Regions from separate parts of the Homo sapiens genome. Here regions 2, 3, 4, 5, 6 and 7 are each reported to be linked to region 1. The links are microRNA targets in miRTarBase. Many come from high-throughput screens and were not tested one by one. Region 1 holds a microRNA gene; each other region holds the end of a gene's coding sequence. Distances are from middle to middle.

What was found. Region 1 holds the annotated microRNA hsa-miR-490-3p (CAACCUGGAGGACUCCAUGCUG, at 2,801-2,822, opposite strand). A microRNA usually pairs through its seed, bases 2 to 8, with sites in the 3' UTR of a target mRNA and lowers its output. Matches are read on the target gene's strand: a 7mer-m8 pairs with bases 2 to 8, a 7mer-A1 pairs with bases 2 to 7 and ends in A, and an 8mer does both.
Region 2: miRTarBase lists ARHGAP29 as a target of hsa-miR-490-3p. The part of its 3' UTR that is shown has no 7-base or 8-base seed match.
Region 3: miRTarBase lists MTURN as a target of hsa-miR-490-3p. Seed matches in the 3' UTR shown: 7mer-m8 at 2,050-2,056.
Region 4: the mRNA of MICB is a reported target of hsa-miR-490-3p. Seed matches in the 3' UTR shown: 7mer-m8 at 3,130-3,136.
Region 5: the mRNA of GLP2R is a reported target of hsa-miR-490-3p. The part of its 3' UTR that is shown has no 7-base or 8-base seed match.
Region 6: miRTarBase lists DPPA4 as a target of hsa-miR-490-3p. Seed matches in the 3' UTR shown: 7mer-m8 at 3,164-3,170.
Region 7: miRTarBase lists DNAJC24 as a target of hsa-miR-490-3p. Seed matches in the 3' UTR shown: 7mer-m8 at 1,635-1,641.

The regions. Positions count from the first base shown.
Region 1 is chr7:136,901,995-136,906,063 of GRCh38, reverse strand. MIR490 (microRNA 490) reads right to left here and starts at 2,897; the gene lies at 2,770-2,897. The region is part of intron 2 of CHRM2 (cholinergic receptor muscarinic 2); the gene reads right to left. It overlaps LOC349160 (a long non-coding RNA gene), which reads left to right. Exons shown (of 4, transcript NR_046103.1): 3 at 4,063-4,069.
Region 2 is chr1:94,170,296-94,174,364 of GRCh38, forward strand. It overlaps ARHGAP29 (Rho GTPase activating protein 29), which reads right to left. Exons shown (of 23, transcript NM_004815.4): 23 at 1-4,069. The coding sequence ends at 3,574. Among named protein-coding and RNA genes, the nearest start is that of ABCA4, 51 kb to the left of the region's middle.
Region 3 is chr7:30,157,296-30,161,364 of GRCh38, forward strand. It overlaps MTURN (maturin, neural progenitor differentiation regulator homolog), which reads left to right. Exons shown (of 3, transcript NM_152793.3): 3 at 143-4,069. The coding sequence ends at 253. Among named protein-coding and RNA genes, the nearest start is that of MTURN, 24 kb to the left of the region's middle. RefSeq lists a silencer at 2,497-2,556.
Region 4 is chr6:31,509,704-31,513,772 of GRCh38, reverse strand. MICB (MHC class I polypeptide-related sequence B) reads right to left here. Exons shown (of 6, transcript NM_005931.5): 6 at 2,649-3,991. The coding sequence ends at 3,864. Among named protein-coding and RNA genes, the nearest start is that of MICB, 14 kb to the right of the region's middle.
Region 5 is chr17:9,889,382-9,893,450 of GRCh38, forward strand. It overlaps GLP2R (glucagon like peptide 2 receptor), which reads left to right. Exons shown (of 13, transcript NM_004246.3): 13 at 1-2,718. The coding sequence ends at 324. Among named protein-coding and RNA genes, the nearest start is that of RCVRN, 14 kb to the right of the region's middle.
Region 6 is chr3:109,324,312-109,328,380 of GRCh38, forward strand. It overlaps DPPA4 (developmental pluripotency associated 4), which reads right to left. Exons shown (of 7, transcript NM_018189.4): 7 at 1,833-3,713. The coding sequence ends at 3,677. Among named protein-coding and RNA genes, the nearest start is that of DPPA2, 9.8 kb to the left of the region's middle. RefSeq lists an enhancer at 1-439.
Region 7 is chr11:31,429,824-31,433,892 of GRCh38, reverse strand. It overlaps DNAJC24 (DnaJ heat shock protein family (Hsp40) member C24), which reads right to left. Exons shown (of 5, transcript NM_181706.5): 5 at 1,058-3,622. The coding sequence ends at 3,492. IMMP1L (inner mitochondrial membrane peptidase subunit 1) reads left to right here. Exons shown (of 6, transcript NM_001304274.2): 5 at 323-433; 6 at 1,325-1,492. The coding sequence ends at 1,393. Among named protein-coding and RNA genes, the nearest start is that of DNAJC24, 62 kb to the right of the region's middle.

The DNA of each region.
Region 1 (4,069 bases):
TACGTAACAAAATTTTTTAAATAGTAGTAATTTGACACTAAGACTCTACATAATATTACCAAAGATCTGAAAATGAGTGTGAAATAAACAAATGCTAATTTGAAAAAAAAATAACATTTTGGTCTTGGCTTTGATAATTTCCAGAAAAACATGGAATGATAAAATACAGTTTTTCAAAGTAAAACTAAGAAGCAATTAAATTTAAAAATATGTATTGATAGATACTCTCGCAATCAATATTTTGAGAAAGTTGAAAAATATGTGGGAGAAAATATTGAAACATAAGGGAAGTAAAAATAATAAAACCACAAAAAAAGAGAAGAGAAAATATGAGAGAATTAAACTACCAATTTAAAAGCAGAGACTGGAAGATCAAAATAAATAAATAAATAAATTCTAATTATAAAATACTTAAAGGGGATTGATCTGAATAAAATGGCACAGATAGTTTAAAATGATGACAAATTCTTTTAGGCAAACTAAAACAGAAGAAATAGGAAGCAGCCATATTAGTTTCAGATAAACTAGAATTACAAGCAAAGTGTACTGAACAGAACAGAGAAAAATAGTTTAGTTATGTATAAAATTCAAAATATGTTTAAAAACCAACAGAATTTGATTCAAACATGATAGGTGCAAAAAATGCAAATACAGCTACAAATCAGGTAGATTTATTTTAAAAAATAAGAACAAAAATAAATGAATAATATAATGAATATGGGAAATAAATACAAATAAAAAACGAGTGCATTTTGTGTGCATGTGTGTGTATATCTTGGCCCTTTTCAACAAAGAAAATGATCTTCAGTTATCCAAACAACTCAAAAACTGAAAAGCTTAGAAAATTCCCAAAATATAGACATTCTAAGACCATATTATTGGGGCAAAATGCAATAAAATTAGAAATTTGTAAGACAATTTGAAATAACAACAAAAGCAACAAACATCTAGCACTTCAGATTTTAAAAATTAAAATTATTATACAAAAAAGAACAACCCAAACTATAATTTTCAACCAATATTAATATTTGTGTTGAACATTTGATTTTGCTATCATCACAGTACTGTACACTTATAAACATATCTCATTTAATCTTACAAAGCACTATAATGTAAATATACTCACTCTAAATTACAAATACAGAAGTGTAGTGAGTTAAAGTCCCTCTCACAACATGTGTGAAACTGTCAGAATTCAAACCTAAGCTCCTTGATTCTAAACCCGTGCTCTTTTTCACCTGGTCTTAGCCAAAAGACTGAAAAGCAGCAAGCCTGTGCTCCCTTAATGTTAACCAGGCTATATTTTAAACATTTAGATGAGACTAAAGCAGTTGTCAGAAACAAATTCATAGCTATAAATGTTCCCAATATTAAAGAAGAAGTATCAAAATTTTATAATGCAGAAGAAACTAAGCTTTAAACTCAAGAAATTATTTTAAAAAGGGAAACAAAAACCTCTACAGAATTAAAAAGAAGTAACTACAAAAGTAAGATAAGTAATAAATTATAAAAATCAAAAGCCACAAAACTCTGGCAAAAAAGCATGAGAAAAACATTTAATATTGGGAAAAAGAAAGGAAAGATAAATTTGGAGAATAATTATTTTAACAGAATCATATGCACAATTATTTGATAAATACTACAAGCATTTTTCTTAAATAGATAATGGTAGCCATCTATAATTTAACAAAATTAATGAGTAGAGATATAGAAAATGTGAATAGGCAAGTGACTTAGAAAAATGTTATAATAATTTTTAAAACTGTTGTAAAAAATGATTTGAGCTTTTTACCAGAAGTTTTCCAGGAAGGGCCATTCAAACATTTAGAGAATTGATCATCGTTCTATGTAAAATTTTCAACAGTATAAGGATGAAGGGGAAGCTACCAATTGGTTTTATATAATCAAGTGATTATGAAATAAATTTCAGCCAAAGATAACTCAAAAATTAAAAAAACAAACTTTTAACTCAGTTTCACTTGCAAATGTAGATGCAAAATGCTTTAGTAAAATGGTAGCAAATGGAATTCAATAGTACATTAAAAGAGTAACATATCATGACAATTAAAGCCATTGGATTTAGAAATGTATTAGTATCAGGAAAACAAATAACATGTCACTTCACATAGTCTGAATAAGAAAATATATATATATGATAATTCCAATACAAGAAAAATAAAACATTTGATAAAGGTCATCTCCTTAATATCATGTACAACACCTACTTTAAACCAAACCCCAAGGCCATATTACTGTTAAAACACTAGTAGAGTTATTAAAACATCACAAGAATGACTGTTTCAGCATTATTAATTAACATTATAAAACATTTAGCCAATTAAAGATATAAATAAAAATGAGAAATATTGTAAAACAGAAGGCGTATTATTTAAGAATAATATGCTGATACACCAACTTTAGAAATCCAATAAATTTAAATTTTAGAAAATTGCAGTCTTAAATGCTAGATTTGCCTGTTACTAAAATTCATTCTGTACATAATTAAAATTCACAAACAAATATTTTACTTATACTTCTATCATTTCTAATCAGCTTTTTAAAAGAGAAATCTTTTAATACTTATTTTCATCCTAGTAGTTTACATTGTGACACCAGCTCTAACAATATCCACAAAAATAACAAATACTTGGATGCTGAGGTGTGAATTTTGTTCCCATTTTTGAAAGCAGGAAGAGTAAGACTTCCTTTTGAAGGAGATTTGCACATACACTATAGAAGACACCCATTTAGTTCTTGGGAAGATGGAGTTGGAAGTGTCCGCTGCTTGTGAACAGCTCAACAGCATGGAGTCCTCCAGGTTGGTGCATCTCTAAACTTGACCCACCTGGAGATCCATGGTGTCGAACAATGAACTTTCCAAACCAGCAAGGCCTCCATAAAGTGAAGGGAGATCCTCTTCACCACCGTTGGTTGAAGAATAAAAAACCTACACCTACACTAGCCCAAATGAGTTTCTGTTGTTTGTCTTCTGTGTCAGAATTTCATTCATTCATTTCCCATCTCTGGCCTATTGTTTAAAGTTGCTGGCCATAATGTATACTTTCCAGACTCCAGGTTAATCCCAGGCTGAGAAGCTTTGTTTGTTTGATAATGAAAAACTGAACAAGGAAACAAGCAAAAACTTGCAAATAATGTGTACCTTATCATAAACATCCAAAGAGTACAAAATTCTGTGCTCTGCAGTTGCTGTATAACAAACATATTAAATTGTACTTGATTGAGCAAATATTTACATCTTACTGTGGAATTTCAAAGTTTAATGTCTACACGTCTTATTAAGGTTGTTATCTATTATTGTATGGTGGAGAAAGGATATCTAGCTGATAGTCATGTTTAAAAACTGACCTGGGTTTGGGACTGCAACCAAATTCTAAGGGCCTAGCTGTTTATGATTTGCCCATTCCATTCAGGGTCGTCCTAATCCCTTCTCAATCTAAGATGCTTCATTCTCACTATAGTTTGCTCGAGAAAGAAAGTGGCTGCTTATGGTATGAGTTCATAAGAGTCATCTAGGATTGTGTTTAATACCCTATCCCACCAGCTTCTAATTTTTACGTGCATTTAATTGGGGCTATATTTGTTAGTTTTCAATTAGAAAGAGACAGATAAAAAGTAAACTGCACACATTATCAGAGGATGCTATAGCTTACCTTCTCACTTATTATGAATTTGCCACCTAAATTCAAACTCTTCTGAAATTTATACCAATTATTAATTCTGAAAGCAATTCTGATTATCTTAATAACTAGCAACTGACTGCAAACATAGAAGGATAGCTAGGTGGATAGATGGATGGATGGATGGATGGATGGATGGATGGATGGATGGATAGATAGATCGATAGATAGATAGATGAGTTTAAAAGGAAGATCACAGAATCAATGTTAGTAGTTAACAATTATTTTTATATTTTGTTTTGAGAGTAGGCTTTGATGGAGCCTAATGAAAGCCATAGAAGAAGCTAAGGGGAGGCTGGACTGTTATAAACAACCCTTCACTTATCTAATACAATTTAACTAAGCTTATCATTTTTTTTTATAGAAAGAGA
Region 2 (4,069 bases), not on the chromosome of region 1:
GTAGTATTGGACAAAAATGTCTATCCTAAACCTTATGGGTCTTATCTAATGATAAACCAAAACTGAGGAACTTTCTACAAACTGGCCAATCCTCCTCAAGTGTCAAGGTCAAAGACAAGTCTGAAAAGATGTTCTGGACTGAATGAAACAAGAGATAGGGCAACTAAATGCACTATGTGGTCCTGGATTGGGATGCTGAAACACAGGAACATTACTGAGGCAATCAAAATCAGCAGATTGAATGTGGTCTATGGATTAGATATCATGATGTCAATGTCAATCTCCTAAGTTTGATGGTTGTACTATGGTTACGTAGGAATGCCCTTGTCTTAAGGAAACACACAGTAGATAGAGGTAATAATGCAAAAAATATTTTGGTTGGGATTACATTGAATCTACAAATGTAAATGAACATCTTTACACGACTGAGTCTTCTAATTCGTGTACATTATGGAGTACTACATTTATTTAAGATCTCCTTAAATGCTTCCTGACATGGTCTAACATTTTCTCCATCAAGATCTTGTACATCTTTTGTTAGACTTATTCTTAGGTAGAGTATTTTGTATTTTTTAATGATATTGAAGAGATCTTTCTAAAAACTTCCATTTCTGTTAGTTGCTGATATCTAGGAATACAACTGACTTACATACTGATTGTGAATGTAGCAAATTTGCTAACTCCTAGATGTTAACTGAATAGTCTACATATATAATCATATCAACACATCACCATAATTTCCTGCCTGTAGGAAAGAAAAACCCACAGAATTCCACTGACTATAAGTTATTTAACAATATACAATGGTTGTCATTTAGAGAGATGTTTCCAGTTGTATAAATACTGTAACACAACGATAGCTGGGAATAGTGTAGCCATAGTACCATCTTTAAATCACCCAAATAACTGAGGTACAATTCTATCTGCTTGTGAGTTCACTAGGCAACAAGTCTCAGGGATCATATAGTCTTTGTCTCTGTATCAAAACAAATACACTGCCTAAGGTACACTAAAAGTAATTTAACATACTGTACTCATAAATTCTAACTAAGTTCTCTGTAGGTAAAACATGGCTAGGGAAGTTATGATCAACCCTTCAGAAATGACTTCTTCTGAGTCGTTTGGACAATACGCATCATCTTGGACAATACGCCTCCCACAAGGCTTCCTGGTGTTCTGGCAGCACTAACAGGGCTCCTGCTGTTGCCCTTTCCTTTTGGTCACGTATCTTTCCATGTTGCAAAAAACAACTTCTGGATAAATGATTTCCACCACACTATTAGATAGCACAACACAGTGCACACTGTGGATCCTCTAGAAATAGCAACCTCTTCTCAAGAGATACTTGCCTCAGGGCCCCAGGAAACTAGAAAGCATCTAGAGGCTTAAGGCTCTACGCTGGACAAAGTGCCAGGGAGCCCTAAAGGCAGAAAGGACCCAAAAGTGAAATTCTCATTTTTAAGCTGTGAGGGAAAACAGAGAAATGAGTTTATTACATGATATAACCTTTGGGTGGGCTCCATATATTAAAAGAGAACTGAAGAAGTTTAAAAGTACATTTTCTAAGTTTTAGTATAGGATGATGATAATGTTCTGGAGATGAATAGGTGCTCATGGTTGCAAAACAATGTGAATATACTTAATGCCACTGAACTATATGCTTAAAAATGGTTCAAACAATATACTTAAAAATGGTAAATGTTATGTGTATTTTACCACAATAAAAATTTTTTAAAGTTGCATTTTCTATTGTTAAAAACTACCAGATATTATTTAGTAATCACAGTCATTAAGAGCACTAACCATCAAAATCTGACAGCCCTATGTTTGAGATTTGACTCCACCTGTTACACCTGTGGAACACTGAAGCAAGTCATTTAACTAAGCCTTAGTTTCCTTATCTGTAACACAGAAATAATAACATGCTTACCCACCCATTATAGGTTGCTGTGAACTTGAAATAAAATAATCTATGTAGCACCTTGGCAAAGTTCCTGGCACACAGAGAAGGCTCAATACACATGGGCTCTAATTTTCTTTTTAGGTATTCATAGCAATATGATTATTTTATATTTTGTACAATGAGGACTAAAAACAAGCCTTCAGAAAAAAAAGGGCTGGTTATTGCTCCCTAGACCTTTACATCACATAGAACTATAAAACAGGTTTCCATAAAATTCATTCCACATTGTAGTCAACGGATGTATGATCCTAGGTGTTGACTTCTAAGCCAATGGTTAATAACCTTAAACTCTCATACTGTAATAGGCAACAACTGAAAAGAAGCCACGGGAACATGAAATAATTTAACAAGTTGATATATATATATATATATATTATCAAGTATAACACAGTCATACAAAAACATTTAGTAGAAATATAATTCACACATAAAAACAGTCTACTTATTTTTTGTCCCTTTTATATCCTATTTTAGGCAAAATGATAAAACCCAGAAAATAACAGGAATGTACTAGTCCTAAAAACTGGACCTTTTATAAATGAAACAGATCCGATCACCTATACCTTCTCTCAAATTCCAAATAATGAGGCTTACTGACCTGTACTCTCAGAATCAACTTAAATAAATTTTAGCTTGATTTGGATGAAATATGTACTTTCAGTTGTTGACAATCCAGGTAGAACAAGTACATAAAATGATTCCTAAGTCAAAACATTTCATACAAAAGGAATGGTTTTAACCCAGACAAATCAAGAGGAAATGCACTGAATTCAAAAACTTCTGAAACAGGCATTTTTTGGACCATTTATAAAATACTAAAAAGTTCAGAACTGCTGAAAAACAAAAGTTTATATAAAATAAAGCCAAGGGGTGAAAAACTATCAAATGTATTAAAACCATCTAAAGCCAAATATAATATAACTGAATATATAATTTAGAAACAGGTTTAAGTGCATTTTCTTTGTACAACTGACTATCACATGTAAAAACTGGCAATTAATTAAAATGCAATTAAATACAGATTTGCAAGCCTTCTGGCCATTATGTAAACATTTAAAAATTAACTGAATTGCCAATTGAAAAATAAGAGCTTACATACGTATCTTAAAAAAGCACAAATGGTGAAAGATGCACTATAAAATTGTGTGACAAAACATATGCATACCAACAAAGATCTTTTTAGGCACTTGCATTCAGAAACATTCCTTTTATAAATAAGCACTTATAACAGTTCCACTCCAAAAAATAAACCTGATTTTCCCAAATTGCACCTATTAGTTGAGACTATATCATATATTAGGGATGCATTCAAATGGACCATTTGGTGGGGAAAGTCAACTGAACTTTAAAAAATACGAATCCACCTATCTTATTCACAACTTTAAAAATACAGAATTTAAAGATAATTCCAGTGAGGCACAAATGTGACCCTATCAAAACATTCTACCATTCAGTATTACCAACAGAGGATAAATACAACAACAAAAGGCAAAACCCATGATTTGGCAGTCCTATACAAAAGAGGCCCTGTCAAAACATTCTTTCACAAAACAAGCACAATACCACAAAATAACACAACAACAACAAAAAAACCCTGAAATTTGACATCCCTACACAAATTGTGGAATTTCACCTTCGAGGTCTTCAAACTGTTGCATTCGTTTTAGCCTTGGTCTCTGACACATTGGATTCACATCAGGCAAGCCAAGCTCCTCAGAGTCTTCTTTAGGTTGACCAGTTGCTTGCCCAGGACAAGCTGATGCTTTGTCTGGGTCTGGCATTGACTTCACCACGAGACCGTGGGGATCGTGATCTGTGCCAGGAGGCACTGCTGCTGAGGGTGAAGCTGGCTTCTCCTCATTCCCCCTGATACTGATGATGGGAGCATGTGGTTTATAAAATGTTGTCCAATGTTGAGGCTGCAGTGTTCTGGGTGCTCTGACAGGAGCGAGAGGGTAGGAATCTGAAGACCGTCTCTCAGATGCCTCTCTCACTGACCTGACTGGCTCTGCATATGGCTTACTGGGTTGAGTGGCATTGATAGAATGGTCCCCACTAATCTGGAGGCTTGTTGTCACTCCTTTTTCCTGGAGTGCACTGGGCATG
Region 3 (4,069 bases), 110 Mb from region 1:
ATCATTGTAGGGGTGGTTGACGGGGAAGTCTGCAGCTGCTGGGTTAAGTACTCTTTAATGTGGATCCGATGCCTTTGGTTGTCTTCCTGCCTGTGGGCCATTTGGCGCTCACAGCTGCTTTTCTCTTGTTCTCTCCCTGTAGTTACTGGGGCTTCCGGATGCAGATGACGATGCGTTTGAAGAGTACAGTGCTGACGTGGAAGAAGAGGAGCCAGAGGCGGACCACCCCCAGATGGGGGTCAGCCAGCAGTAAATCTGGGGGCTCCCCTGAGAAGGAGAGTGAGCCCCACAGTAACCTAGGTGGGGTCACTGCCCCTCCTGGGTTAGCATTTTGCATTAGCACTTCGAAATAGGACATCTGGCTCCCAGCATCCAAATTAAAATGAAATACCTTTTTAACGACCACAAAATATCTGTGATGAGCTTTGCTCAGAAGTGACCTGAATTTCACTCCCGCTTCAGTGGGGTTTCTATGGAGTTGTCTTGGTAGCCTTTGCCATTTTGAATTTAGAGTCCATTTTGTGGCTGACTATTCTCTTAAGTTTATGTTGGAGAATTAACATTCGCTGACTCGAATGTAGAGAACTCTGAATGTATTAAGGATAGGTTTTGAGTCCTCACAGGTGACCTTACTGAGGGAAAGCATGGCAGAGAAGAAATGCAGTCTGCACTTTTTATGTACTTTTTAAGTGTCCGTAAGTGAAAGGTTTTGCTTATAAAGCATGAATTTTAATATCTAGTCATTAAACTGCACAAGTGCAAATACAAGGGCAGGAAAGGATAATCACTTAGCTTTGGACTAAGAGGGTAAGAGAGGCCCAGAAGCCTTTAAGTGTTTTGCCATTACTGAGTTACCTGGGTATGTAGCGACTGGTTCGTGGTTAGGTGTAAATGTTACTTGCTTGTTCGACTGTTTCAAAACATGCTAATTCCAAAGCCACTTTTGAAGTCTATAGTGGAAAATATAGATGGGGTGAAAGATATAATGTATTGATTTTTAAAGCTGTTTATAAGCCGTCCCACGTATAAAATGAAACATTTTACCTTCTCTCTTTCTAATGAGATGGCCGCTTGTTAAATCATGAAAACATCCAGAATTCAAGTGCCGCTTAAACTTTGAAGCCATAGATAAATTTGTTAGAAAAGTAAACCAGGATTAAAAGTTTTTAAAAATATGGTAGAATCCTTCTTTACTTTTTAAGTCTTTTATTTAAAAAAAAAAAGTCAAAAAAAGGATTCCATTGTGTAATTTATTTAAAAATTTAATCACATGTTTCGAGGGACTTAATTGTGGTGTATTTGTAAAGGGACACGAAGGTAGGAATCTTTTAATCGTGGGTTAGCTTGGTTAACAGGGAACGTTTTAATAATCAAGATACTCAGACAACTCACAGAAACAACTTCTGTAATAACTGGAAATACTGCTGTTATCGTTTAGCCAACAATTACTTACTGGGGACATCCTTTGTAATGCTAACATGGAATTATTCCTGGACCCTTCTGCATCCCTGGTTTTAGTTAACCTAGGATGCGGAATGCCTCCTTTACAACACTAGATTAAACCTAGCATCTGGGGTGGGTACGTTTAAACAGTCACACATGTGCCTGTTAGGTTGTGAAAGTTTTGAATTAAAAACAAGCAGTAGCAGCAGAGGCCACAGAACTTATGGGAGTCTTGTATATCTTCCAGGCATGTCGGTGTAAACCTGATTGTCTCGACATTTTCTGTTTAATTGATTGGTGCTGTGAGGAGTTCGGCTGCTCGTGGTAAAACAGCGTACTCCAGTTTTAAGTCATCGGGTAAAATAATAGGACAGTGATTTCCATCTGTGCTTCAGTACCCACTTTGTGTTCTTTTCTTGAAAAGTCATACTAAAGGTTAATTTCAAGTAAAATGAATTTCCTTCCAAGTAGCCTATTAGTAAAACACAACTTAGTGTTTCATCCATTGGGGTGAGCATATACTGCCCTTTGCAGCCCTGCCTGTGTTCTGATTGGCTCCATTCATGAGCAAAGGTGATTGTGAGCTGTATATTACACAGGTGTCGCCCAGGTTTCGTAACCTCCACTTTAATGCAGTAAGCCGCAAGAATGACTTCTGCAAGTGAAATGAGGAAGCTTCACTAGCTTGCTCCATTGGAAGGTAAACTGAAATTTTATACGTTGAAGCTTAAAATCTAAATTTATGTATGTTTGGAAATGGAATGGACATTAACATAAAATGTATTTTATCAAAAAAGTGTTTAGACTTTGACCAAATACATGTTGGTATTATCATGTTAATGTTCTCTGTTTATAAAAATTGAGTGGAGATAGATAGACTCGGCCATTCTGTGGGCTGATGAGAATTCTGGGCTTTGTTTTGCACCAGGGGTAGGAAACAGAGAACATGTCTGTATGTTACTTAATCTCCATAGCAAAATCCCAAACAGCATTAGCAGATCGAATTGTTTCTTCTAAGACTTCCTTTTTCTGAATGTGTGCACATCCCTTCTCGTGCTCACACACTTGCCCACACACTCACTTCTTCCTGCGCTGTGGCTGCTCTAAGCAGGGCTGTGCATGGTGCAAAGCTGCAGTCAGTGAGCCTGGCAGCCTGTGGTTTCTGTTATGGAAATGGTTCCATGGTGAAACACATCCCTGACCCTTCACAGACTTACACATTTACTCACCAGGAGGTGGCAGCGGTGTGGGAGGAGGAGTGTTGACCTTGGACGCAGGAGAGACACCTGGGTTCTAGTTCAAGTCGGCCAAGGACTGTGTGACCTTGACAAGTCTAACTGGTCTGTGAACAAGGGGCATTTGCCCTTCCAGCTGTAAACACTGCCCTTCTGTGCCTGCCTTATGTGTGTGTGTGAGTAAGGAGCAACAGTCAAGGAAACTTTTAGGGATTCGAGAAGAAAATACATGTGGGATCTTGCCAAGGTGCTGCCTTTAGGATGCTGACCCCTGCACTACCTTAGAACATGTTGATCTGTGAGTGCCCAAGCCCCTGAGGGCTCGATCTCATGGGGCAGATGAAATTCTCTTCCTTAGAGGAAAGGGAAAGGTGAGGCCCCAGAGGACTTATCTCAGCTGTACATGCTCTGCCTGTGGAGACATGGCTTTTCTTTGTGCTGTGGCAGACTGGGGCTTTGGAAGTGGTGTATGTTTAACTTACCTGAGAGTGAGAGATGTGTAGGAAGAATAGCTGGAAGAAAGTGAAAGATGAGTGCCAGTACTTTTGGCCTGTTATCCAGTAGAGAGAAAGTGACAGTGAAAGTAACGTGAGAGAGAAAGAGTGTGTGTGTATATGTGAGAGAGAGAAAGAAAGAGAAAGGAATGCTTGATTGCTTGTTGTTCACTGGGCCAGCTCTGAAATCCAAAATCATGCCTTGATAACATTACAAAACCGTGATCCTGGGTTTGAGTGAATCCTAGAGACATTGTTCTTATGGCCGCCTGGTTTCCGCAGCCTGATCACCATATCGAGCAGACGTCAAGGAATCAGAGTGAAGTACGGAGCCAGGGAGGGAGGTGAGGCCCCGTGTAGTGCCTGTCACCACTGTGGATTCACCTGCACTCAGGTGTCCACTCCTGTCTCCCAGGCCCAAAGCAGCACATGGTGCAATGGAAAAGTCTCTTATGTAGGGATCCTCCTTGTGTCCTGGTGCCAGAATTAGATTTCCAGTGTACTTCAACGAAAACCTCTCTCCTTTATAGTTGCTGTCATCTTTCATGTATAAACAGAAACCGTCTCTAGCACAATATATTTCTGAATATTGTTTCTGTTTCATAAGAGCACAATGTACATGGACCTAGGGGAGCTGTGGTCCCAAGTGTCATTGGAATTTATATTTTAGGAATAGGCTTTGCATGTTAAAATTCACAAGTTGGGAAACTGGTATGAACAGATCTGATTTCTTACAGAGAGGCATGAAGGAATAGGCAGGACTTAACTTGGGGTGGGAGGAGATGAATAAGGGAGAATGGGAGAGTTGGGGTCTGACAGTTACCACCTGAGCCCCAGGAAAACTGTTTTCATTTTCACGGCTGTCTCACTGGGGGCCTGCTTTCCTCAAAGGAACTG
Region 4 (4,069 bases), not on the chromosome of region 1:
TCTCTCTTCCATCCGCCAATTTTCCAACTTTATTTTCCCCAAGTTCCAGACTGGCCAGGCAACCCATGAGTCACTGCCCTTGATTCATTCATTCATGCACTACTGGGGCATAATTTCTACCCTCTACCTCCTGTGGTCTTGTTTGGGTTTTGATTCCTAGTTCCTGGCTCGACAGCCCTTTCCAAAGCTGTTCTGGTGTCAGCTCCCAAGCCTACTGCTCTTGTAGATTCTCCTTTTTATATCTGAGTCATGGGCATTTATTTCCTGGAATTAAAAAAAAATTCACTGGTATTTTCAATGCAGCATTTCTAAGGACTTGGAGTAGGAGAAATTCTATATTAGCTTAGAGAGAATTGTTTCAAAACACCAGAAATGTAAACTTGAATGAAGGACAACATGCATGGAGAAAGGTGGACAAATCACAGGTGGGCAGTGGATTTTGCCCAAGTAAAAACTCGGATAAACAACACCTTCATCAAGCAACATCATTTTCACCCTCCAAGAAACACCGTTGAGTCATAAACCAGCCTCCCCCACCCTAGAGTAGCCACTGTCTTGATTTTTAACACTGTAGATGAGTTCTGTTGGTTCTGATTGAATGAAATTAGAAGTTGTTTTCATGTAGTTGGGCTCATCATCTTTGCTGGGCTCATCATCTTGCTGTGTGTGGTCATAGCCGATTCTCTCCCATGGCCGTCAAGTGCTCCACTTTATTTATTTATTTATTTTGAGACGGAGTTTCACTCTTGATGCCCAGGCTGGAGTGCAATGGCGCCATCTCGGCTCACTGCAACCTCCGCCTTCCCGGTTCAAGCAATTCTCCTACTTCCGCCTCCCGAGTAGCTGGGATTACAGGCATGCGCCACCACTCCCGGCTAGTTCTGTGTTTTTAGTAGAGACACAGTTTCTTCATGTTGGTCAGGATGGTCTTGAACTCCCGACCTCAGGTGATCCACCAGCCTCGGCCTCCCCAAGTGCTGGGATTACAGGCGTAAGTCACCGCATCCAGCCAAGGGTAAATCTCTTATTTTAGAAATTATTCAGCTAGTGAATGGGGAAGGAATGAGAGACTGAGACTATAATTCTTTTGCAACCCATAACGAATTAACAGATTTAGCCATTGAAAAGCAATGGCAATTAAAAGTAGAGTAGAAGTAAATAACCAGTACTAAGTTCTTCCTCCTGATGGAAGAATACAATGGAGTGCCATAAATGAAGTATTCAAGAAGAAAATCAAGTCAGTCTATAAGCAAATCTCTGTAGCCAACTACCAATTTGTAGAAAGTACAGATAAAACAGGTCCATATTAAACTATGCCTTGGGGTGGAGCCAGCAAAATGCAAACTATGGAAAACTCAGCCAGACAATAAAATTTCAAGGAGGAGCATAGAGAAAAAAAGAGAACAGGCCAGGTGCGGTGGCTCACGCCTGTAATCCCAGCACTTTGGGAGGCCGAGGCAGGCAGATCATGAGGTCAGGAGATTGAGACCATCCTGGCTAACATGGTGAAACCCTGTCTCTACTAAAAATACAAAAAAATTAGCCGGGCGTGGTGGCAGACGCCTGTAGTCCCAGCTACTCGGGAGGCTGAGGCAGGAGAATCGCATGAACCCGTGAGGCGGAGCTTGCAGTGAGCCGAGATCATGCCACTGCACTCCAGCCTGGGTGACAGAGTGAGACTCCGTCTTAAAAAAAAAAAGAAAAAAGAGAACAAAAATTATACATCCCAAGGTAAAACTAAACTACAATTTCAGAGGATGAAAATATAAAATAGAACAAAGAAGCAATCATCATAAAGGTCAGGCTGTGATTTTATGTGGGGAAGGGAAGCCTTTATCACTGAGCTGGGGCAAATGATGGTTTCTGGGCTGGCTGACAAACTTCTATATCTCTGGTGGTTAAAGAGTGTTTATCTTTTATTATTATTATTTATTATTATTATTAAAGGGCAACATTTTCAGACAGTTTTTCTTTTTGGGTACCTGTTTTATTTTATGGCAAAAAGCTAATGAAGAATAAAATAATTTATAGGTCATGATTACTGTTTTGCAGAAAGCCTACTCTCCACACCCCTCTCCAGACACTGAGCTCCCAAAACAAGTGGCAGCACCAGGACCCCCTGGCAGGGCCACCTCACTTCTGGGTGTGTTCATGTCACTGGAGGCAATGTCCCAGGTCTATTCCTTGATGCCTGGAAGAACCTGATAGGAGACAGTTGAGGGGAAGCCTTCTCTGTCACCTGCAGGTTCTTGGCTGTCACTGTAGAGGGAGCGGGTCCTCACTTCTCCCACAGGCCGGATCACAGCCAGAACCTCCTCCCTGCATGGGGAGTGAGGCTTGATCCTTTCCCTGAATACAGTGACAGAGATCTCTGTGTCATCACATGAAGGCTCCAACTCTTCAGGGCAGATGTTCCCTCACAGGGTCAGCCCCTGAATATTGGCGCCAGATGTCCCACCTCCATCCCTTCCCAGTCCTTTCTGTTCTGCTGTGAATCTGTCAGTCATTGGGAACTAGCAGGGAAAGGGAACAAGGAGGGGAGATTGCTTTGATGCTGGGTCAAGGCATTGAGACAGACCTCTCCTTCTCCCTGAACCTCACACTTTATCCGCTCCCAGACGCATGAAATAAAACACAGACCAGAAATGTCTATTTAAAGAGTAAACATTTACGGTATAAATTATGCACACATAATAGTAGACACAGAGTAATGCATAACGGTGTGACGGGGCGAGGGGACCTCAAGGTGACAAGAAAGCTGGTCCTGGGCTGGTCAGGAGGAGTCATCACCAAGATACTCACTCATAAAGTTCACCCATGATAATCTAATTACTGCACATGTAATATATTAAAATATATTAAAACATAAGAAAATAGGACAGGCATGGTGGCTAATATAATAAAATATATTACAATATAATAAAATAGGCCAGGCACGGTGGCTCATTCTTGTAATCCCAGCACTTTGGGATGCCAAGGCAGGCAGATCACCTGAGGTCAGGAGTTTGAAACTGGGCTGGTCAACTTGGCGAAACCCCGTCTCTACAAAAAATACAAAAATTAGCTGGGTGTGGTGGTGCCTGTCTGTAATCCCAGCTATTCGGGAGTCTGAGGTACGAGAAGTGCTTGAACCTGGGAGGCAGAGGTTGCAGTGAGCTGAGATCACACCAGTGAACTGCAGCCTGGGTGACAGAGTGAGACTCTGTCTCAAAAACAAAAACAAAAACAAAAACAAAAACAACAGAAATAATGATACCAATTAATATGGCACTGTTAAGGGCCCCACAACCCTGTATTGGACTGAACAAAGGGCGAACGTGGGAATAAAGAGAAAGACAAAAGAGTATATTTGGAACAAGGGGTCAGGGGGCTTCTTGCTTCTCGTGAACAAGGGCTCTGATCTTCCACAGCCCTTCGTATTTATTGGTATAGGAGATAGCAAGAAGAGGGGTGGAAGAAGGAGTCAGCTGCTGGGTCCAGAGTAGGCTTGTAAGACTGCATTCCTCAAACAATAGGCTCTAGATGACCCAGTAGATAACTCCAATGAGCACCATGGAGTGAATGCCCTCAGCAAACCTTCTGTTGGCAGGAGCAGTCGTGAGTTTGCCCACATCCTGCATTCATGATAAACAATTTGCTGTTTGATCATATAGCCTCCAATGGAATGTTGAGTTGGTCATGATCCCTTTGCTGGCTCTCTACGTGGCAGAGCAGCAAACACCTCATACCTACTAACACTTTGCAGCATCCAACAACAATAAATAAGTGATGTTATTTTCTCTGTTTCATAGGTCAGGAAACAGAGGGAAAGTGCTGGTGAGATCCAGGCAGGGAGTTGAATCCTGGCCGCCTGGCTGTAGAGTCTAGGTGCCCTCAGTGGAACCAGTGGACCCAGTAGCTGACATCAGAGGCTGAAATCCCAGCTGTGCTGCATCCCTGTGGTCTCCTGTCCCAACTGGGTGTTGATCCAGGACCTGCAGGCTCACAAGCTCTGGAGAAGAGGGAAACGGGTAAATGCTCCACTGGGTGCAGTGTTGTGTTTATTCCCTAAGGACTTTTCTCTCTTCAG
Region 5 (4,069 bases), not on the chromosome of region 1:
CTGCGGAAATACTGGGTCCGCTTCTTGCTAGCCCGCCACTCAGGCTGCAGAGCCTGTGTCCTGGGGAAGGACTTCCGGTTCCTAGGAAAATGTCCCAAGAAGCTCTCGGAAGGAGATGGCGCTGAGAAGCTTCGGAAGCTGCAGCCCTCACTTAACAGTGGGCGGCTCCTACATCTAGCCATGCGAGGTCTTGGGGAGCTGGGCGCCCAGCCCCAACAGGACCATGCACGCTGGCCCCGGGGCAGCAGCCTGTCCGAGTGCAGTGAGGGGGATGTCACCATGGCCAACACCATGGAGGAGATTCTGGAAGAGAGTGAGATCTAGGGTGGAGTTCCACCACCCTGGCTCTGCTCCCAGGGACTCTTGAGGGGGCCCAGGAAGAGGAAGCAAAGCAGGACACACGTTGCTGGGCACGGAATCATTCTCGTTCCATTCACCATGCCACTTTGATATGAAAGCTATCACAAGGTTCTTCAAGCTCTGTATGAAAGAGGCTGTGTGTCATGCTCACAGCCTCTGCCTGCTCTTCTCATCCTAATAACCCCCACCAGTGTGTTTTCCACAATGCCCACCAGACCCTAGGGCCTGGCTCTAAATTCAAGCCAATGAAGTCCCACCATGAAGAGAGGTCTCCTGTTATAGAGAAGCCAGCCAATATCTCTTCCTTTATCCCTTGGGGTGCATGCTTTCCATCTGAGGTTGGGTTTAGGGTGCGTGAAAACCTCCTAGGAAGCTTTTAAAATGCAGAATCCTAGACTTGTGGCTAAGATTCTAAGACAGTGAGTCTGGGACCATGGCCAGGAATTGGAGCTGTTTAATAAGCATCCCAGGTAATTCTGCTGCAAGCCCACCCTTGGAGAACACTGGGCAGGGTGAGAGGGAGCTAGAAGCGCCCCCATGTGGCCATGGCAGGATGCTGCAAGAGACAGTCTGCTCTCCCAGGTCAGCTGGGGTGTGCCTGCCCTCCTTGGAGAGTATGTAACTCCACCCACCAGAGTGCCACTCCTCTCTGCTCTTCCTCTCCTATCAAGTCTTGCCTCTCTCTCTCTTTGCCTCAGTTCTCTGTCCCTGCACAGCAGGAGTTCTGCTTGATCCTCCCTTTGAGGATTGGCCCCAGTGCCTGGGGACCCTCTGAATGTCGTCTTTGGTCTGTTCCTCTCCTTTCTGGCTCTATCTACCTTTCTGAGTTTGGCTTCTACCAGCCTGATTTACACTACCATTCTCTTGGGGCAAGGAATGTCCCCACCATTTTTGGTTTGCCATTGATGCATTGATTGTCACACCTGTTGTCCCAGGAAGTTGACCTATAACTCTCCATGGCCAGAGTCCCTGCTGATCAGAATTCAATTTGCCCAGTGGGAATAAATACTGAAAGCAGGAGGGCCCAGGTAAAGCAATAGGAGTTTGGCTGGATCTGGACATGCCCAGGGTGGCTCTGAGAGATCCAAGACTTTGCATCCACCAGCCTGTGGGATCTTTCCTGCCTACTGTGACCCATGGAGGCTGAGGAGGGCCCAGGCAGTTGGGGTCAGGCTCAATGACTGAAAGTATAGGGCAAGAGGCTGTAGGAAGATCAAGGGATGGACATCCTTTGGAAACAGTGTGTTAATGCACAGGAGTGTCACTTTCATGGTATGTAAAATGCATGTGTACGTGGGTGGGGTATGTTGCTATGGGACTAAATACCACCTTGTCTTCGGGGGAGTCAGTTTGATACTCCTCAAGCAGGGCTGCCATATTTAGCAAACAAAAACAAGGTACTCAATTAAATTTGAATTTCAGACAAATAGTCTTCTTGTATAAGTATATCCCATGGGCATATTTAATCTGAGATTGGAATTCAATCATGCATCTTGTCTTTTACTGGCATCTCTGTTTTCAAGGATACTTTGCCACAGGGCTGGGACTAGGGTGAAATAATCAAGGCACTCATCTCTAAAAAGCTCAAAGTAAATGATCAAAATAAATCATATTTTAATGCAATATTCTAAAAAAACAAATTAACAAACTACAGCCCATGAGCCATTTATAGAAATGAAATTTGATTGGAGCCAGGGGCAGGATAAGGGTGAGGCAGGAGAGGCCAGCTCTTGCAAGTGCAGGCTCTGGTCCTGACTTTCAAATGTTGTCTATGAGGGACTTTTAATGTGAATTTTTATTTTTAGACAATTGCATTAAAATGTTATTTATATTGACTATGGGGACTTTTGGGGCCCCCTTAAATTTTGCACTTGAAATGGGATCCCCACTTGTGTCACCCCATAGTCCAGCCCTGGTTTTAGGATGGGGATGGAGGCAAAGGCATCAGGCAAGTAATGAAGCAAAGGTTTATTTTTTGGTGTCCAGATTATCCATAGCTCAGTCATGAAAATCTATGTCTTTCTATTTTTCTCCTTTCTGCAAATGTCCCTGCCTCGGCTCATCAGCCAATTAGCTCCTAGAAAGCTGGGGTCATCTCGTATTCCCAGCAAGTACCCAGCACAGTGCCGGTTCAGAGCAGGTGCTCCACACACATTCCTGGAATGAGACAGCACAGAAATGGCTCTCGGGAGCCTCGGATGCTGCTGGGAGTAAGTGATCCAGGACCTTACCGCTAAGAGGAGAAACTTTTTTTCAAAGCATTTATAAATACTCCCTCCACCCCTCACTCCACAAATGGGGTGATCAACACTTACTGCTTGCTCTTGTTCTGCTAATGATTAAAACAAGTTTATTTAATTTCATTTGCATTTTGTTGATTCTTTTACATTTGTCTCTCACTGGAGCTGAAGGTCTCTCCCACCCATGAAGAATGCGATGCACTATTCCTGGCCAGAAGTGAGGAAAAGGGCTGTGGCGTTTAGCCAGGGACCTGGGTGCTCCAATATCTTAAATTTGGTCTTAGGGACCAGAGGAGTGGGCAGAGGGGCCGGGACCAGAAGCAGAGGTCAGAGGTCAAAAGAATGGAAGGAGAGTGTCTCCCCTTTTATAGACCACCCCATTGGTCACTCAGCTTGCCTGTTGCTTTGAAGATCTAGTCTAGTGGTTCTCAATCCTCGCATTACAATCCCTTGGGAAGCTTTTTATTTATTTTTATTTATATTTATTTATTTGAGACCCAGTCTCACTCTGTTTCCCAGGCTGGAGTGCAGTTGCATGATCTCAACTCACTGCAACCTCCACCTCCCGGGTTCAAGCAATTCTCATGCTTTAGCCTCCCGAGGAGCTGGGTCTACAGGCGTGAGCCACCAGGCCCAGCTAATTTTTTTTGTATTTTTAGTAGAGACGGGGTTTCACCATGTTGGCCAGGCTGGTCTTGAACTCCTGACCTCAGGTGATTGCCTGCCTCGGCCTCCCAGAGTGCTGGGATTACAAGTGTGAGCCACCACGCCCAGCCCCCTGGGAAGCTTTTTTAAAAGACCAGTGACAGGGTCTGACCCCAGAGGTTCTGATTGAAATGGTCTTACTAGACCTGGGCATTGGGATTTTTATAAGTTCCTGAGTGATCTTTTTTAAATTGTGGCAAAATATATATAACATAAAATTAACCATTGTAGCCATCTTTTTTTCTTTTTGTTTTTTGAGACAGAGTCTTGCTCTGTCACCAGGCTGGAGTGCAGTGCTGTGATCTCGGCTCACCGCAACCTCCACCTCCCAGGTTCAGGCAATTCTTCTGCCTCTGCCTCCCGAGTAGCTGGGACTACAGGCGCCTGCCACCACTCCTGGCTAATTTTTGTATTTTTAGTAGAGATGGGGTTTCACCATATTGGTCAGGCTGGTCTCAAACTCCTGACCCCAGGTGATCCACGCGCCTTGGCCTCCCAAAGTGCTGGGATTACAGGCGTGAGCCACCGCGCCCGGCCAGCCATTATTAAGTGTATGGTTCAGTGGCATGAAGTACCTTCTTACTGTTGTGCAGCCGTCACCACCATCCATCTCCAGGACTCTTTCATCTTCCTGAACTGAAACTCTACATCCATTAAACAATAGCCTCCCATTCTTTCCTCCCCAAGCCCCTGACAACTTCTACTTCCTGTCTCTGTGAATTTGCTTATTCTGGATACATCAGCTATAAGTGGAACTGTATAGT
Region 6 (4,069 bases), not on the chromosome of region 1:
TGGTCTCAAACTCTGGATCTCAGGTGATCCGCCCCACTGGGCCTCCCAAATTGTTGGGATTACAGGTGTGTGCCACTGCACCTGGCCCTTTTTGTGTGTGTGGGACGGAGTCTCACTCTATTGCCCAGGCTGGAGTGCAGAGGCACAATCTTGGCTCACTGCAACCTTTGCCTCCCAGGTTCAAGTGACTCTCCTGCCTCAGCCTCCTAAGTAGCTAGGATTATAGGCATGTGCTACCACACCCAGCTAATTTTTTTTTTTTTTTTTTGAGATGGAGTTTTGCTTTTGTTGCCCAGGCTGGAGTGCAATGGCGTGATCTTGGCTCACCACAACCTCTGCCTCCCGGGTTCAACCAATTCTCCTGCCTCAGCCTCCTGAGTAACTGGAATTACAGGCATGTGCCACCACGCCCGGCTAATTTTTGTTTTTAGTAGAGACAGGGTTTCTCCATGTTGGTCAGGCTGGCCTTGAACTCCCAACCTCAGGTGATCCACCCCCTCAGCCTCCCAAAACGCTGGGATTACATGTGTGAGCCACCGCATCCGGCCAATTTTAGCTTTTTTTGAATACAGAGATTGTCCTCTCGTTACTCACTGCAAGATCCGCCTCCCGGGTTCACCCCATTCTCCTGCCTCAGCCTCCCGAGTAGCTGGGACTACAGACGCCTGGCTAATTTTTGTATTTTTAGTAGAGATGGGGTTTCACCTTGTCAGCCAGGATGGTCTCGATCTCTTGACCTCGTGATCTGCCCGCCTCGGCCTCCCAAAGTGCTGGGATTACAGGTGTGAGCCACCGCGCCTGGCCCTTTTTTTTTTTTTTTTTTTGAGGCAGGGTCTCTGCTCTGCTGCCCAGGCTGGAAGGGCAGTGGTGCGATCATGGCTCACTGCAGCCTCAACCTCCAGCTCAAGCAATCCTGCCATCTCGGCCACCCGAATAGCTGGGACTACAGTCCACAGGCCACCACAGCGGGCTAACTTTTGTACTTTGGTGAAAGGGTTTCAATATGTTGCTCAGGCTGGTCTTGAACTCCTGGGCTCAAGTCATCTGCCAGCCTCAGTCTCCCAAGTGTTGGGATTACAGGCGTGAGCCACTGCCCCTGGCCCCTGTGGCTCTTCACATATGGCTATGTCTAAGTGTCATTCAAAGCAAGGTAGACTCAATTAGCCTGAGACAACAGGTGTAATCAGGACTAATTGTTTCCTCATTATTAGATTTACATTATATTTTTGGCAATGATATTGTGTACTTCCCATTGTTTATCAGAAAAGACATTTTAGTTTGTAACATTCCTGGTGGTGCTAAGTTGGAATCCTTGGTTAAGGTGGCTGTAGCCAAATTCCAATTTTTACGTCAGTAAGCCCCATCGTGCCAAAATGTAGAAATTTTATTTCCATCAACAATATGTTCAGAAGCCCTGACCAACGTTTACCCTTGGAAGCTGCCATGTCCCTTTGGGGCCAAGAGAAATTTGCAAGGCTGGCTCCAGGTTTCCCACACCAGATACAATGTGGGCACAGACCTATTTGTACAAGTTATCTTAACATCCAGATGGGAAATTGGGAATATAAATCTCTTCTCTCAGCTCCCCCCAAAACAGCAAGATGTCATGCCTCTGCCAGGGAACTCATCTGAGACACAGGGAGTTTATAGCTCCAACTGTCTTCCTCTTAGCATTCTGGGAGCATAGCAGGGAGACAGGGAGTGGGGGACTGAATGTGATTGATAGGAACTTTGGGGGAGGCCTGTGAAAATTAGGGTGATTTGGCAAGTATGTAACCTTAAGGTTTTATCTTGCTGGGGCAGGAAGATGAGTAAATAAACTGTCTTACTGGTAGACTCCAATTATTAATTTATTTTGTATATAGAGAAATTTAAGTTTATTGAAATGTGTTAGAAGCAGGGGAAGTATCTACAAGCAGAATCGTAAAGCCAAGGACATTTCCAAATTAATAGAAAGGAAGGAAACAGAACAGAAACTTGACCCATCCAAATAAAGCAGGGGAGAAGTTTAAAAAGGAAACAAAAGGAACAATACACATAGTATAAGAAAAAATGTCTATTATTTATTACACAATAATTCTGACCACCAACAACCAACGGCGGGGGCGGGCAGGAGAGAAGAACATCTTGCTTCTCAACAAACTTTCCTCCCTTGCTTTAACATTTTTGAGGATTCTTTCCCAAACCTATTACACCTGTATTATGATGGTTACAAATTTTCCAACTCTTCCACTCCTTCCAGTGCATTATTTTTAGTATCTTCATTAAACGGGCAAAAAAAAAGATCCCCTACTTGTAATAACAAAACAATGTTGGAAACTGTCATTAAATCAGGATAAGTGAAAAACAGATCTGTTCCCAGACTCGCAGGACTATAAGTTTAGGAAGTACACAAAAAAATTAAAAATTAATTACACAATAGGATACATTAAATATGTGCAGCTTTTTGTATGTGAATCATACCTAAGTAGTTTTAAAAACAAATGATCCAACCCATACCACCAACTAATAAAGAACAAACGAGTCATACAAAAGAAAAATCACACTTTTTGGTTTACTCCTACTTGAGTTAAGAACACTAACAATAAAATTTGCATGCAATGAATATGGTTCTCTAAATACAACAGATGAATTATTTTACATACACATCTTATTTTTATTTATGGAGAATCGGTTAATAAACACATTTTAAATTCAATATATTATGTATTTATGAGCGGGAAGCAACCTTAAACATTTTAAACTCCAGAAATATACAAAACAATTATAAGTGAAATAATACAAAGTCCCTTGTGTTTTGATCCTGGAGTCAAACCATAGAAATCTCAGGTTATTAAGAGAACTTTGAAAAATATTGTTTAGAATATTAAAAATCATGTGTTTGGGGGAGGGAGGGAATTAACAGCCTTTCTTTGCCTTAAAATACTTTACGTTTTATGAAATTGCAATTGGAATGAAGCAGCTCCTAAAGTAGTCAGTGTTCAGAGGAAGAGAAAATTGAGCACAAGAGCCAACTACCATTTTACTCAAGTCCATCACAATGCTTAGCTGAAGAACTCACTTAAAAGAGCTGTTGAAGGTCAGGCGCAGGGGCTCATGCCCATAGTCCCAGCATTTTGGGAGGCTGAGGAGGGTGATCACTTGAGTCCAGGAGTTTGAGACCAACCTGGCCAACATGGTGAAACCCCATCTCTACTAAAAATACAAAAAATTAGCTGGGTGTGGTGGCAGGTGCCTGTACCTAGCTACTCAGGAGGCTGAGGCAGGAGAATCATTTGAACCCAGGAGGCGGAGATTGCACTGAACTGAGATTGCACCACTGCACTCCAGCCTGGGCAACAGTGAGACACTGTCTCAAAATACAACAAAAAAAAGCTGCTGCTGAAGTCATGTCTATTTTAGAAAAGTAGTATGAATGAGTTTTTCTACATATTAACTACAATTTATGGTAATTTGTGAAATGTTTTTCCATTTTTAAATGTAAGAGTCTCTATCTCCACTCACAAAGCAACAGGCACTGCTAGGGGTCTTAGGCTAACATCTGCCACCCCACCAGTCTGCATGGCCCATAAACAGGTGCAGAGGACCAGAGTTCACCTGTCAGCAGCACCGCAGAATCCAACTCTCCAGCTTTTCTGCCATTAATTACCATAGATGTGGCCTTTTTCCTGATATTCTATTCCCATTGGAGGCTTTTTATTAAGACCTTGTTCCTATAAAGCAAATAAAGTATTTGTTTTTAAAAAGAATGAAGAAATATTAAAAATAGCCAAGAAACCCGCTGCTGGAATGCTGTTGAAATTGCCCTTACAACTTTAGGATCATAGGTAGCAAGCCTGTGATCCTGTCATTCAAGAATGAAGATCATCAGCCAAGTTATCATGCCTCTGTAATATATTCCCTGACTTGTGCCAACCATGGACAGGAGGCCTTGGAGGGGCTCTTTTCATCACTTTCCCAAAAACCTAAGTATGTCATTAAAGGACTACCCAAAGTGACCTCCTCAGTTCTCTTCAACTTGCTTGGCATAGAGAGATTATCAAAACACTCACAGCAAAAAGTAGGATAT
Region 7 (4,069 bases), not on the chromosome of region 1:
TTTTGAAGTCTATTAAATTAATGACCCTGTCACACTATTTTGATCTCTTATAACCTCAGTTTGGGGTTTGTATAACAAATTAATATTTGGGAACCATATGACAAAAAAAGATGATAGGTTTTTAAAAAAGTTGAAACCTTTGATATTTAGTAAAAGTTATTGTGCAAGAAATAAAAGCAAAAATGCAATATTAGGATTTGTATCTATTCTATAAAAGAGAGCCTTAGGACATTTCTCCCTACCTCTGAATGACATGCTTTTTAATTATAGTACCCAAATTAGGTTTTATCTTTAAGAGGCTGCATTTCTTCTCTAATTCTAGGTGCCAATGGGTCATGTTTGGTTAGAAGGTGACAATCTACAGAATTCTACAGATTCCAGGTGCTATGGACCTATTCCATATGGACTAATAAGAGGACGAATCTTCTTTAAGGTACCATTTTCTGCTTAAAATGTAAGGTTTATTTTCTGAGCTAGAAAAAGTTTCTCTCAAAATGATCTCTGAAATCTTCAAGCTGTCAGTGTACTTAACTGTTGCACCGAATATATTTTTTGAACCTGTTGGCCTTAACTTAATAGCCATATGCAAACCTATTCCCCCATTGCCCCTGCTCCCATAGAGATAATAATAAAATCCAAACTACCTTAGCTATAGCCTAAGAAAACTTTAATTTGAATTTCCAAAAGTTCAGTTCTCTCTTGTACAACTCTTAAAACCATGTTCACATCCTGCCCAGGGCATATTTTAATAAGCATGTGCAGAAGAACAGTCTAGATTCAAACTACCTGTAAAGTAGGGATACCCCAGTTGAGTACTGTGAGTCACAGACTTATTGTGAATGTATGATTATTAGGGAAGATTGTTTTCACTGGCCCCTCCTTTTTATCACAATCAGTGAGGAGAAAAACATTCATGAATACATGGAGCTGTTGGATAATTTACAGGATTCTTTACATTTAAAACAGATGCCATATTCAAGTACTTAAACCTAAGCCCCTTTGGTTGAAAGTACACAGTTAACTCTTACTTGCAAGTAGTAAAAGAAAACACAGACCATATATTCATACATATTTATTCACACACCACACACATATAATTTCATGTACATTGTTTGAATGTCCCAAACTTTGGAGTTTAAACATATATACACATAAGTTTATTTTCTCAAGTCTTACTTTGATGTAGAAAATTTTATTCTTGATTGATGAGTAAGGAGAAAGTGTTTATCTGGCATAGAGAAAAGGGACAGATAGCAAAAGGGAATATGATGATACTATAACATTACTTTCACTAATTGTCTTCAACCTCATTTTGATTTTACAGATTTGGCCTCTGAGTGATTTTGGATTTTTACGTGCCAGCCCTAATGGCCACAGATTTTCTGATGATTAGTAAGCATTTATTCTTTTGACTTGATTATTGTCTCCTTTTCATGTGAATTTATTACTCCCGTTGAAACCGTGTACTTACCAATAAACTATTTGCTATTCAGTTTTAGTTGTTTTTAATTGTTAAATGTAAAGAATATTCAACACACATTCTGCCAAGTTCTGTTAGTTCAAAATATATGGATAAAAATGTAACCCAAAAAAGTCATCTAAATTTTATGATACAAAAATATTGTGGGAGGGGGAACCTGGATGACTACCTCACTTTTGAATTCTTGTTCTTATAGGTATAATGAAACTAATCTATTCTTCTTAAATATACCTCATACTTTAGCAGCTACATTTACAAGTCAGAGTAGTAACTATTCGTATTTATAAGTTCAACCTGACAATGCCAGGTTTGATAAAAAGCTGCTAGTCTACATGCTCAGCCCACTCATTTGAAATTAAGTAAAAATGTTTCTAAAGGATCCCTTAAAGTTCTTTAAATGAGTTCTGACTTTTACTGTACACAAAATATTAAATACATAGAAAAATGCATCTTTAAGGCATATGCCATCTGTAGTTGGCTATAGTCAATAATACTTTATAAAAGTTCATTTCAGCATAGCAGCAGTGCAATGGCCCTGTCTTCATAAATACAGGCATTAATACTATATCTTTTTTTATTTATTTTATTTTATTTTTTTTGAGACAGAGTCTTGCTCTCTGTAGCCCAGGCTGCAGTGCAGTGGCACAACCTCGGCTCACTCTGCCTCCTGGGTTCAAGTGATTCTTGTGCCTCAGCCTCCCGAGTAGCTGGGACCACAGGCAGACACCAACGTGACTGGCTAATTTTTAAAAAAATTATTTTTAGTAGATATGGGGTTTCACCATGTTGGCCAGGGTGGTCTTGAACTCCTGACCAAAGGTGATCCGCCTGCCTTAGTCTCCCAAAGTGCTGGGATTACAGATGTGAGCCACCATGCCTGGCCCCAATATTATATCAACACTCCAAAATAAAAGGGGAAATAATGCACCAACTTCCAAGTCATTATTTTTAAAAAAGCTTCTGGCCAGGCATGGTGGCTCACGCCTGCAATCCCAGCACTTTGGGAGGTTGAGGTGGGCGGATCATTTGAGGCCAGGAGTTCAAGACCAGCCTAGCCAACATGATGAAATCCCATCTCTATTAACAAAACTTAGGCCAGGCACGGTGGCTCAAACCTGTAATCCTAGCACTTTGGGAGGTCGAGGCAGGTGGATCACCTGAGGTCAGGAGTTTGAGACCAGCCTGGCCAACATGGTGGAACCCCATCTCTACTAAAAATACAAAAATTAGCTGGGCATGGTGGTGGGCACGTGTAATCCCAGCTATTCGGGAGGCTGAGGCTGGAGAATCACTTGAACCCAGGAGACGGAGGTTACAGCGACCTGAGATCATGGCACTGCACTCCAGCTGGCGCGACAGAGTGAGACTCTGTCTTAGAAAAAAGAAATTAAAATTAAAAGCTTCCATTTCCTAAATTACATTTAAATTTGAAGATGGCAGTGTTTACAAGCTTTGGAAATACGGACCAAGATTGGAGGCAACACTTTCTACAGTTGCCACTTTGTCTTTATTAACTTTGAAATAACCTTATGAATATCCATAACCAGCCTTCCTTATGGAAGAACTGGCCTCACATTATTCACAAAGATTCTAGGTGTACAACAGCCCCATAACTTTAGCAACTAGAAACGTTATCGGTTAGACCAGAAACTTAGTAACTATAAAGGAATATGATGATACTGTTACCCACTGAAAAGAGGAGACATGCTCATATTAAGAAAATTCTTATTTTGTGTCATGGAAAAAAATGACATAATAAAGTTCTCAGATGGGAATTCACCAAATATAATCAAATCTATTTTTGTGACAACTTGTAAATATAAATTATAAATACAAATAAATAATTATATTCATTCTCTATTAATCTGAGGTGGTCTCTGCTTGATAATTGTATATTTTCTTTGCAAATAATCGGGCTGACAAATAATCCATTTCCTTGAATGGACAAAGCTCAACGGCTTCTCATCATGTCTCAATACCACAGTTAAAGCATTTCAAGTTGTGAACAATTTTAGTTATAATGAAGGAGTTCTATAATTAGTGAACATGTATCACAAGAAATCAGGCTAACTTCTTCCGCTTCATCCTTGGAAACACTGTATTTTCCACCACATCTGCAACTCAGATAAAAAGAGTGATCACCTGCAAAAGAAAACAAAATAATCTTTCAAAGACTTGTAAGTAACTACCTCACTAATACCCTTAAAAGGTGCAGAGTTTATTCCATAGGAATTGTAAAACAAAACAAAGAAGCTCAGTAAAGATAAAATGTATTTAAAGGAGAACTGGATTTCTTGAAAGGGGCAGTGTTTCTAAAAATTATCTACCAAAGAATCTTTCTCTGTAGAGGAGATGGGTTGAAGCTATGAATTAAAAGTCCAAGGATTTTGGGAGGAGAGGGCATGCTCAGAAGTAACCCATGAAACTTATTTGAAGTTTTATGTTTTCTTAAAATTCATATAAATTTTACATTCTTTTCAACAATGTATTTGTCTAAAATATTACAGTGAAGGAAAAGAAAAACAGCCCTACCTGTCTCACTGTTAGGGAGGATGATGCTTTTGCCTGAAGTCTATCCTTTAGAGAAAG